Linked DNA regions of Homo sapiens. The protein of the gene in region 3 purifies or fractionates together with the protein of the main gene of each other region. This does not show direct contact. Each region holds a gene or a part of one and is shown on either strand. Other genes may lie near its edges.

Region 1 (3,659 bases), on a different chromosome or scaffold from region 3:
CTGGGATCGCAGGTGCCCATCACCACGCTTGGGTAACTTTTTTTGTATTTTTAGTAGAGACAGGACCAACCATGTTGGCCAGGCTGGTCTCGAACTCCAGACCTCAGGTGATCCACCCGCTTCAGCCTCCCAAAGTGCTGGAATTACAAGCATGAGCCACCACACCCGGCCAGCAACCACTACTTTTAAGCCAACTTTTTAATAATTTAAATTTTAAGGAATGCCTTTGGTGTGAAAACATTGTGCAACTATACCTATCCATAGTTTGGAGGAGAAACAAGCATAAATTAAACCCAGTAGTGTAAGATGGGTGTTACCATGCCTCTCCTTCACTCTCACTGCACGTCCTGTTGTGATGGAGTTAAGTATGCCAGGCATATACAGCATGTGTGTAATAATGCTCCAAGGATGCAAGAGAGAAGGAAGGGTTTGGAGGTGAAATTAGGGAGAGACCACTTCCTCATTCCTGGTGATAAAGTCATCTGAACTATGCATCTCATGCGATTTCTTCACAGGGCATGTACCCTGTTCTAAAGTCCTCCAGTAGACATTTTAGGTAGCAGAAGAGTGAGAAGCTAAGGCTCTAGTTGTTGATTTATTAACATACAAGTTCAATTATTGGCGATTTTGTGAAATCCATAACATTTCTTAATTTCTAGATACTGCTAGGCCTTTCATACTGAATGACATAGGATTTCTAGCTTCAAAGGAGTTTTTAAGATAAAGACTTATGTTACATATTTTCAGATTACCCTTTTTTTTTTTTTGACACAGGGTCTTGCTCTGTCGCCCAGGCTTGAGTGCAGTGGTGCAATCTTGGCCCACTGCAGCCTCTGCCTCCTGGGGGCAAGCAATTCTATTATCTCAGCCTCCCAAGTAGCTGGGATTACAGGTGCCCGCCACCACACCCAGCTAATTTTTGTTAATTTTAGTAGAGACGGGATTTCGCCATGTTGGCCAGGCTGGTCTCAAACTCCTGACCTCAGGTGATCCGTCTGCCTCAGCCTCCCAAAGTGCTGGGATTACAGGCGTGAGCCATGGTGCCTGGCCGGATTACTCTTTTTAAAAGCTGTACTTGGTAACACTTCTAACCGTCATATATGAATGAATACAACGAAACTAATCATTTTAATTTTCATATTAAAATTAAATAGCAAGATTCCAAGAATACTAGAGGAAATTAGCTTACTTTAAACCTTTTAGATTATCTTTAACAGAATATCTGATGTGCTTGTTGGTCAGTAATATTTGTTAATGTCACAGACATGTTTACTTTGTAATAGCTTAATTGCATAATATCCTCATATAAAGCAAATTAATGAAATTTATTTCATTTTTTGAAATTGCTCACATGCTAATTAAATGAATGTTTTCTGACCCTGATACCTTCAGTGTCTTCATCTATTAATGGTTTTTTAATAAAACAGCAAAATTAAAAATTTTTACCTTCATATGCCAACACACACTAAGCTCTTGTTCTCTTTTATAGGGAAATCCTCATTGACGATTCAATTTGTTGAAGGCCAATTTGTGGACTCCTACGATCCAACCATAGAAAACAGTAAGTATTGTTTTCAAGTACTTAAAAACTGAGAAGCCTTCTTTTGTGTAAAATAGCCATTGTGTATTCATGGAGGCTTTGAGTGCAGGAGGTAAATTCTGTGTGTCTCCCAATTGGGGTCAAAGAAAACTTGCAAAAGATTTACCTACTTTACCCTGAAAGATTTTTCCTTCCATGTCTGCATCCCCTGCCATCTAGAAATTATTAATTCAAGTCAGTAGGAGTCTGGCCCATTACTGGAATCTTCAAATTCCAGAATCTGCTCCAAAACAGGAATGGAGAGCACAGTCTTCTCCCCCACACCCCCTTTCTCCCAGCCATTGCAGTTTCCAGGGATTCCAAGCTTGAAAGAATGAAAAACACTCGAGATCCCTGTTCCTTATTCTTACAGAAGCCGTACTCCCACCCACATTTCTCTATACCCTTCTTTCCAGCCCTAAAGATTTGAAAGAGAAATGAACTATTCTGGGATTGGATAGAGCAGTTGCAGCATTAAAAAGAAGTTGGCTCAAAAAGCCTGTTGACATTTTAGGCCATGTGCAGAAAAAAGCAGGGAAGACAGAACCAGCCATGACCTTTACTTTGTTCAATTTTAATCCATGGTTTCAGAATATTCCTGATGGATTCTAGGACCATGAGACTATTTATTTATTTTATTTTATTTTTTAAAGAGACATGAGTCTCACAGTGTTACCCAGGCTGGACTCAATATCCTGGACTCAAGTGATCCTCTTTCCTCAGCCTCCCAGGTGGCTGGAACTACAGGCATACAACACTGTGCCCAGCTTTGAGACAGATCTTGATTCTAGGGATCGCCAAGGATAATCTGAAGCAGGGAAGCTGGTCTTTTCAGGCTTAGAACCCCAGGTGGGCCCTGGAACTAGGTTTCTCAGATTCTTGAGACCAGGACTTATCTAGGATTTGTCACCAGGAACATGTAGATTTAAACATGGGATTCATCAACACCTGATTGGCATATTAGACACGAAGCATATTTCACCGGCCGGAGGCTTGCAAGAGAATCACTTGAATGCTTTGGCTGACAGTAAAGAGCTTGGCAAACGACAGCCTGCAGGCCAGCAAGGCCCATTTCCTGTCTTTATACAGACCAAGAGCTAAGAAAGGTTTTTCCATTTAAGCATAATATATAAAAGTCCAAAGAAGAATAATGTCTGGCATGTGAAAATTATATGAAATTCAAATGTTAACCTCTATAAAGTTTTATTGATACACAGCCATGCTTGTTCCTTTACATGTTGTCCTTTACATGCTGTACAATGGCAGAGTTGTTGAATAGTAAGAGCAGAGACCAGGTGGCCTACAAAGCCTAAAATATTTACTGGTACTGTCTGGCCCTTTACAGAAAAAGTTTGCTCACCCCTCGCTTAAAATATTTGGCTGTCCTTTGTGTTCCAGTGTGCTGGTAGCAGAGAAGGAAACCTGTTGGTTGATAAACTAACTCCAGGAATATTTTTGAAAGTAACCTTTCAAGATGTTATATTTGAAAGTAACCTCTGGGTATCTACAGGGAGGAGTCCTGATTACATCCTATGATTTGTCTAGCTGGTCATTATATAATAGTAAGCAAGTGTGAGGAGCAGATTAATGTGAGTGCTGGATGAACAAGCTCGGTTTTCTGTCCACTGGAATAAGAACATAAGAAAATCATCATCTTGGACCTTAATATTTGCTATACAAAGCAATTTAGGATTTTAGATCCTTGAAATAATAAGGTTCATTTTGGAATTGTATTAACAGAACAATAGAAGATTGTTTTCTTCGTAAGCTCTGCCTCTAAAAGTGGATATTGTGGCTGTATCCTCATGCCATTTCATACTGAGCTGGAATTAGCTGGGCGTGATGGTGTGTGCCTGTAGTCTCAGCTGAGACAGGCGGATCACTTGAACCCAGGAGTTTGAGGCTGCAGTGATCTGTAATCATGTCACTGTACTCCAGCCTGGGCAGCAGAGCAAGATGTGGTCTCAAAAGTAAAAACTGAGTTGGAAGGAAAGTCATGGAGTTGTGTATCATGGAGCTATATATACATACATTTTCTTAGTAAGTAATGGATCAGAAGAAAGTCCAACTTATGTAACTT
Region 2 (2,606 bases), on a different chromosome or scaffold from region 3:
GCCCATAAATTTGTACAAATAAAAAATTATAGGCCGGGCATGGTGGCTCACACCTGTAATCCTAGCACTTTGGGAGGCTGAGGCTGGTGGATCACCTGAGGTCAGGAGATCGAGACCAGCTTGGCCAACATGGTGAAACCCCGTCTCTACTAAAAATACAAAAATTAGCCGGGCGTGGTGGCACATGCCTGTAATCCCAGCTACGCGGGAGGCTGAGGCAGGAGAATTCCTTGAACCTGGGAGGTGAAGGCTGCAGTGAGCTGAGGTTGGCACCACTGCACTCCAGCCTAGGCAACAGAGCGATACTCCGTCTCAAAAAACAAAACAAAATTATAATTCCAGGAGGTGCCTGTTCTTGGCTTCTGCCAGAGGTTACACTTTCCAGCCTGTGGGATGGCCAGACGCAGGCTGCAAAGAAAAAAAAAATTTTATATGTATATATATGTATATACACACACACACACACAAATTGAGATAGTGACAGACAAAGAATTCCAAAAGCTGTTTTAAAAACTAAATTTTCATTATATGTGCCATTAATTTGTAGTATCAGCCCATCTTTTTCAGTTTTGGTATAAGATTAATACAAAGTGAATGACAGACTACATCATTAGTGATCATGATTTGTATAATGTAATTTATGCTTTAGTGAGTTATTTTCCATATAGTAAAATGCCTTTATTTAAAAAAGAAGAGGTACAGTACATTATAATTCCAAGGAAATTTTCGTATTTTAAAAATGCCAATTTTTGGCTAAAAACTCAAAAGATTTCATTTAATACTTGAATAACAAGGAAATTCACAATTAAGGCTGAAATACTGTTCATATTATTGTGTATTTCTAAGCATGTTATTTTAAGCTTGTGTATTTTAAACCATGGTTACAGAATTGTATAGGAATATATTGAAGGCATAACCTTATATTTATTGGAATTTTGGTTTAATTGTTTAGAATTTCAAAATAGTATTGGGATGTGAAACAGGATGATTATCACTCTGATAAAAACAAGACTGAACTGAGTCCTTCACTGTATTTTTCTAAAGAACTCACTTCTAGTGAGTAAGTGTTCAATAACATAAAGTTAGGAAATCTTTATGTTATTAAAATTTGAATTTTTCTTTCACTGTATCCCAATATTTTAAATATGTGTTTCAGGACATTTCCAGTTAAAATAAAAGTTTAAATAATATCCTCACTACATTAAAAATAAGATCTTTAAGTAAACGTATTTCCAAATCATATTGTCATTGTGCACTGAAGTTAATTCTCTGAAGACTAAATTATATGCAATTGAGGTTCTGTTTCCCTTCTAAACGTTCCTTTACTAATTTTTCCAAAGCGAAAAGATGCTCATCTGCTTCTTCTGGCACAAGGTTCCTAATAGAATTTGCAAGTTCAAAAAGATATTCTGTATTTCTTCCACTTGGACCAGCTGCATTAAAAATTTGTTCAGCAATGTCTTCCAGAGGTGCAGGACCAAGATAATCAGGATTATCACATGTTCCAATATATAGCAATACACTGAATGGTTTTGTTGTGGGATCTTTTGGATAAAAAATGACTGTTGTGGTTCTGTAGCCTCCTTTTTCTCTGAAGTCAAGGTATGCTTTTACTTCTTCTTCCTTTCCTACTGGCAATCTGTAAGCAACACCCCATACACATCCCTGTTGAAAAATGAAAAGAATACACTGGTATTATAAGGCTAATTAAAATAGGTGAAGAAAGGTTGTGATCTAAGGGAGTATCTCATATATTCTTTTCTGTTTGTTTTTGAGATGAAGTCTTGTCTGTTGCCCAGGCTGTGGTGCAGTGGCACGATCGTGGCCTACTGCAACCTCAGCCTCCCGGGTTCAAGCTATTCTCCTGCCTCAGCCTCTCAAGTGACTGGGATTACAGGAATGCACCACCATGCCCAGCTAATTTTTGTATTTTTAGTAGAGAAGGGGTTTTGTCACGTTGGCCAGGCTGGTCTCAAACTCCTGACCTCAAGTGATCCACCTGCCTCGGCCTCCCAGTGTGCTGGGATTACAGGTGTGAACCACCATGCCTGCCTGTATCTTGTATATTTTTAAAAGTGGGCCAGGAGCGGTGGCTCACGCCTGTAATACCAGCACTTTGGGAGGCCGAGGTGAGTGGATCACGAGGTCAGGAGTGGAAGACCAGCCTGGCCAAGATGGTGAAACCCCGTCTTTACTAAAAATACAAAAATTAGTCAGGCACAGTGGCAGGCACTTGTAATCCCAGCTACTCAGGAGGCTGAGGCAGGAGCATTGCTTGAACCCGGGTGGCAGAGGTGGCAGTGAGCCGAGATCATGCCACTGAACTCAAGCCTGGGTTATAGAGTGAGACTGTCTCAAAAAAATAAAAAATAAATAAAAGTCAATACAGTTTTTCTTCACTTAAAGTGCACAGAAGAACATACTAAACAATAAAGGAAATAAGCACTTTAAAATCTCCATTGTGAATAATTTCTTTGTATCATAGGCACAGCAAGATATTTTATCTTAAAAAAATTTTTTTTTAATTTGGTCTTTTTCTTTAATAACGGGACTGAAATGAAAAATATGAGCCTTTCACTTGGTCATTAAAAAATTCTAGAAACAAA
Region 3 (3,659 bases):
CCTCCTGGGTTCTAGCGATTCTCCTGCCTCAGCCTCCCAAGTAGCAGGGATTACACGCACATGCCACCACACCCGGCTAATTTTTGTATTTTTAGTAGAGACAGGGTTTCACTATGTTGGTCAGGCTGGTCTTGAGCCACCGCGCCCGCCCGGCCTACACACCAGCTTAAAAAAAAGAAAAAAATAGCTGGGCGTGGTGGCTCATGCCTGTAATCCCAGCACTTTGGGAGGCTGAGGCAGGCAGATCACCTGAGGTCAGGAGTTCAAGACCAACCTGGCCAACATGGCGAAACCCTGTCTCTACTACAAATATAAAAATCAGCCAGGCGTGGTGGCGGGCTCCTCTAATTCCAGCTACTTGGGAGGCTGAGGCAGGAGAATCACTTGAACCCGGGAGGTGGAGGTTGAAGTGAGCCAAGATCGAGCTACTGCACTCCAGCCTGGGAGCAAGACTCCCGTCTCAAAAAAAAAAAAAAAATTTGTAGTGGTATGGAGGCCGGGCATGGTGGCTCACGCCTGTAATCCCAGAACTTTGAGGGGCCAAGGCGGGCAGATCATGAGGTCAGGAGTTCGAGACCAGCCTGACCAACATGATGAAACCCTGTCTCTACTAAAAATAACAAAAATTAGCCAGGCATGGTGGCGGGCACGTGTAGTCCCAGCTACTCGGGAGACTGAGACGGGAGAATCGCTTGAACCCAGGAGGCAGAGGTTGCAGTGAGCTGAGATCACGCCACTGCACTCCAGCCTGGGTGACAGAGTGAGACTCTGTCTCAAAAACAAACACAAACAAACATATATATATATACATGTATATATATAATATATATATACGTATATATACACGTGTATATATATAATATATATACACGTGTATATATATTATATACATATATATACACGTGTATATATATAATATATATACATATATACACGTGTATATATATAATATATATACGTATATATACACGTGTATATATAATATATATACGTATATATGTATATATTAATATATATACGTATATATACACGTGTATATATTAATATATATACGTATATATACACGTGTGTATATATTAATATATATACGTATATATGTGTGTGTGTGTATATATATATGTATATATATATATATATATACATATATATATACAGAGAGAGAGAGAGTAGTGATAGGTCTTGCTGTCTTGTCCAGGCTGATCTTGAACTCCCGGCCTCAAGAGACCCTCCCACCTCAGCCTCCCAAAGCACTAGGATTATAGGTGTAAGCCACAGTACCTAGCCTATTAAAAATTAATGTTAAACAAGAGGATGTGATGAGGGAGTTAGAGGGTGTGCCAGCCATGTGTTCCACAGCAGCAGGTCAGGAGACATTGGGGACATTTAGAGGAGCTGAAGAGGTGGCCAACCCTGTGCTCAGGAGGACGGGGGAGGGAGAGAGCAAGAGGGAGTTTGGGCTGGGGCAGAACGTACCTGGGTCCTGAGAGGATAAGAAGGTAGGGACTTGGCCCCTCCAGGCCTGACTCTGCCAGCAACCAGCTCCCTATCAGCAGACTCCAGGCCCCTACCCTTCAGCTCATCCTTCCTTATCACACATCCAAAACTCTGAATGTGGCCGGGCGCAGTGGCTCACGCCTGTAATCCCAGAACTTTGGGAGGCTGAGGCAGGAGGATCGCTTGAGAACAAGAGTTTGAGACCAGCCTAGGCAACATGGTGAAACCCCATCTCTACTAAAAATATAAAAATTAGCTGGGTGTGGTGGCACATGCCTGTTGCCCCAGCTACTCAGGAGGCTGAGGCAGGAGAATCACTTGAGCCTGGAAGGCGGAAGTTGTAGTGAGCAGAGATTGTGCCACTGCGTTCCAGCCTGGGCAACACAGCGAGACTCTGTCTCAAAAAACAAAAACTGGAATGTGTTTACCATAAAGGCCAGAAAATGTGATTAACAGCTGCTCAAAGCCCCTGTCTGCCCTAAGCCTGAAATTTTCACCGAAAAAAAGATCTGTAGGCTCATACAGAGGAAGGACAAACACCAGGGAGGCTCTCTTCCAGTTTGCTTCACCTCAGCAAGCAGACGGCTGGCAGCAATTTGGGGGCAGGTGTGAGCACCTGCATCATCAGGAAAGAAGGGGCACGGTGGGGACGCAGGTCAGACCTCTCACAGGTCTTGGCTCTGCCCAGGAGACACGTGTCCAACTGAGAGGTGAGGAACTGGGTTCTGCAGCTGCAGACACAGGTGCGGCTCAGCATCTGATGGCCACGGAGACCCCCTGGCTTGGCTTCTCCCAGCTGGTGGCCCATGAGGAGCTTCTATCCCAAGAGACTGTCCCTCAAGGAGCAAGTGGGACCAGGTACCCACAGGACGGAGCCTGGGAGTGAGGCCTGCCCTGTGGTCTGGCTACAGGGAGGAAGGGCAGATTGGAGGGGGCAGGACAGCAGGTCAGGAATTGGCCAACTCTGGAGAGAGCAAGCAAGGGGAAGTCTGCGCACAGGGCAGGGCTGGTCAGGGGCGAGGCAGGGCATTGGACCAGTATTTTCAGAGCTGGTGAGGCTTAAAGAGCATGTCTACTGCCTCTTATTACAGAGAGAGGATGCCGAGGCCCAGACCCATCCAGGCCACCTCTCCACAGACACAGCTGGTGCCAGGGAAGCCCCTCCCAGAGCCTCAAGGCATTGCTCCCTCTCTCTCTCTCTTTTTGTTTTTTTGGAGACGGAGTCTCACTCTGTCTCCCAGGCTGGAGTGCAGTGGTACAATCTCGGCTCACGGCAAGCTCCGCCTCCCGGATTCACGCCATTCTCCTGCCTCAGCCTCCCGAATAGCTGGGACTACAGGCGCCCGCCACCACGCCCAGCTAATTTTTTGTATTTTTAGTAGAGACGGGGTTTCACTGTGTTAGCCAGGATGGTCTCGATCTCCTGACCTTGTGATCCGCCCGTCTCAGCCTCCCAAAGTGCTGGGATTACAGGTGTGAGCCACCGCGCCTGGACTTTTTTTTTTTTTTTAAGACGGGGTCTCACTCTGTCACCCAGGCTGGAGTGCAGTGGCGCGATGTCGGCTCACTGCAACCTCTGCCTCCCCAGTTCAAGTGATTCTCCTGCCTCAGCCTCCCAAGTAGCTAGAATTACAGGCACATGCCACCATGCCCAGCTAATTTTCTGTATTTTTAGTAGAGATGAGGTTTCACCATGTTGGCCAGGCTGGTCTTGAACTCCTGACCTCCGGTGATCTGCCCACCTCAGCCTCCCAAAGTGCTGGGATGACAGGCGTGAGCCCCCGCGCCTGGCCCCCCGCAGTGCTGGGATTACAGGCGTGAGCCCCCGCGCCCGGCCCCTCCCTCTCTTTGACTCCCTTCTTTCTCACCGCCCCCTCCCCACCATCCTTCCCCTTCACTGACTTCAGGGAGTTAAAAACAATTCTCGCAGTGAGCTGGGCTTGTTTTGTCTCCCTGCTTCTCTTTGTACTAAACATTAGATACCGAGGAAATGCGGATTGGCCTTTGGATGATTCATGAGCAGGAGTCAGAAAAAGGCACCAGGTTGGCCTCAAGCAGCAGGGTATAGTAGTGCCCGCTCCCAGGGTCACACCTCACGCCCACCCCTCCCGCCGTCCAGGTGGATGGTGCCCACTCCCAGGGTCACACCTCACGCCCACCCCTCC

The links.
Region 1: the proteins of STMN3 (region 3) and RHEB purify together in Homo sapiens (affinity purification with mass spectrometry; one large-scale study listed by BioGRID and IntAct). This does not show direct contact.
Region 2: the proteins of STMN3 (region 3) and CHAC2 purify together in Homo sapiens (affinity purification with mass spectrometry; one large-scale study listed by BioGRID and IntAct). This does not show direct contact.

The regions. Positions count from the first base shown.
Region 1 is NC_000007.14:151,488,845-151,492,503, reverse strand, and holds part of RHEB (GTP-binding protein Rheb), read left to right. Parts: intron 1-1,489; coding exon 1,490-1,561; intron 1,562-3,659. UniProt on the Homo sapiens protein: Small GTPase that acts as an allosteric activator of the canonical mTORC1 complex, an evolutionarily conserved central nutrient sensor that stimulates anabolic reactions and macromolecule biosynthesis to promote cellular biomass generation and growth.
Region 2 is NC_000002.12:53,773,201-53,775,806, reverse strand, and holds the end of CHAC2 (glutathione-specific gamma-glutamylcyclotransferase 2), read right to left. Parts: intron 1,666-2,606; coding exon 1,282-1,665; 3' UTR 611-1,281; downstream 1-610. UniProt on the Homo sapiens protein: Catalyzes the cleavage of glutathione into 5-oxo-L-proline and a Cys-Gly dipeptide. Acts specifically on glutathione, but not on other gamma-glutamyl peptides.
Region 3 is NC_000020.11:63,646,841-63,650,499, forward strand, and holds part of STMN3 (stathmin-3), read right to left. Parts: intron 1-3,659. UniProt on the Homo sapiens protein: Exhibits microtubule-destabilizing activity, which is antagonized by STAT3.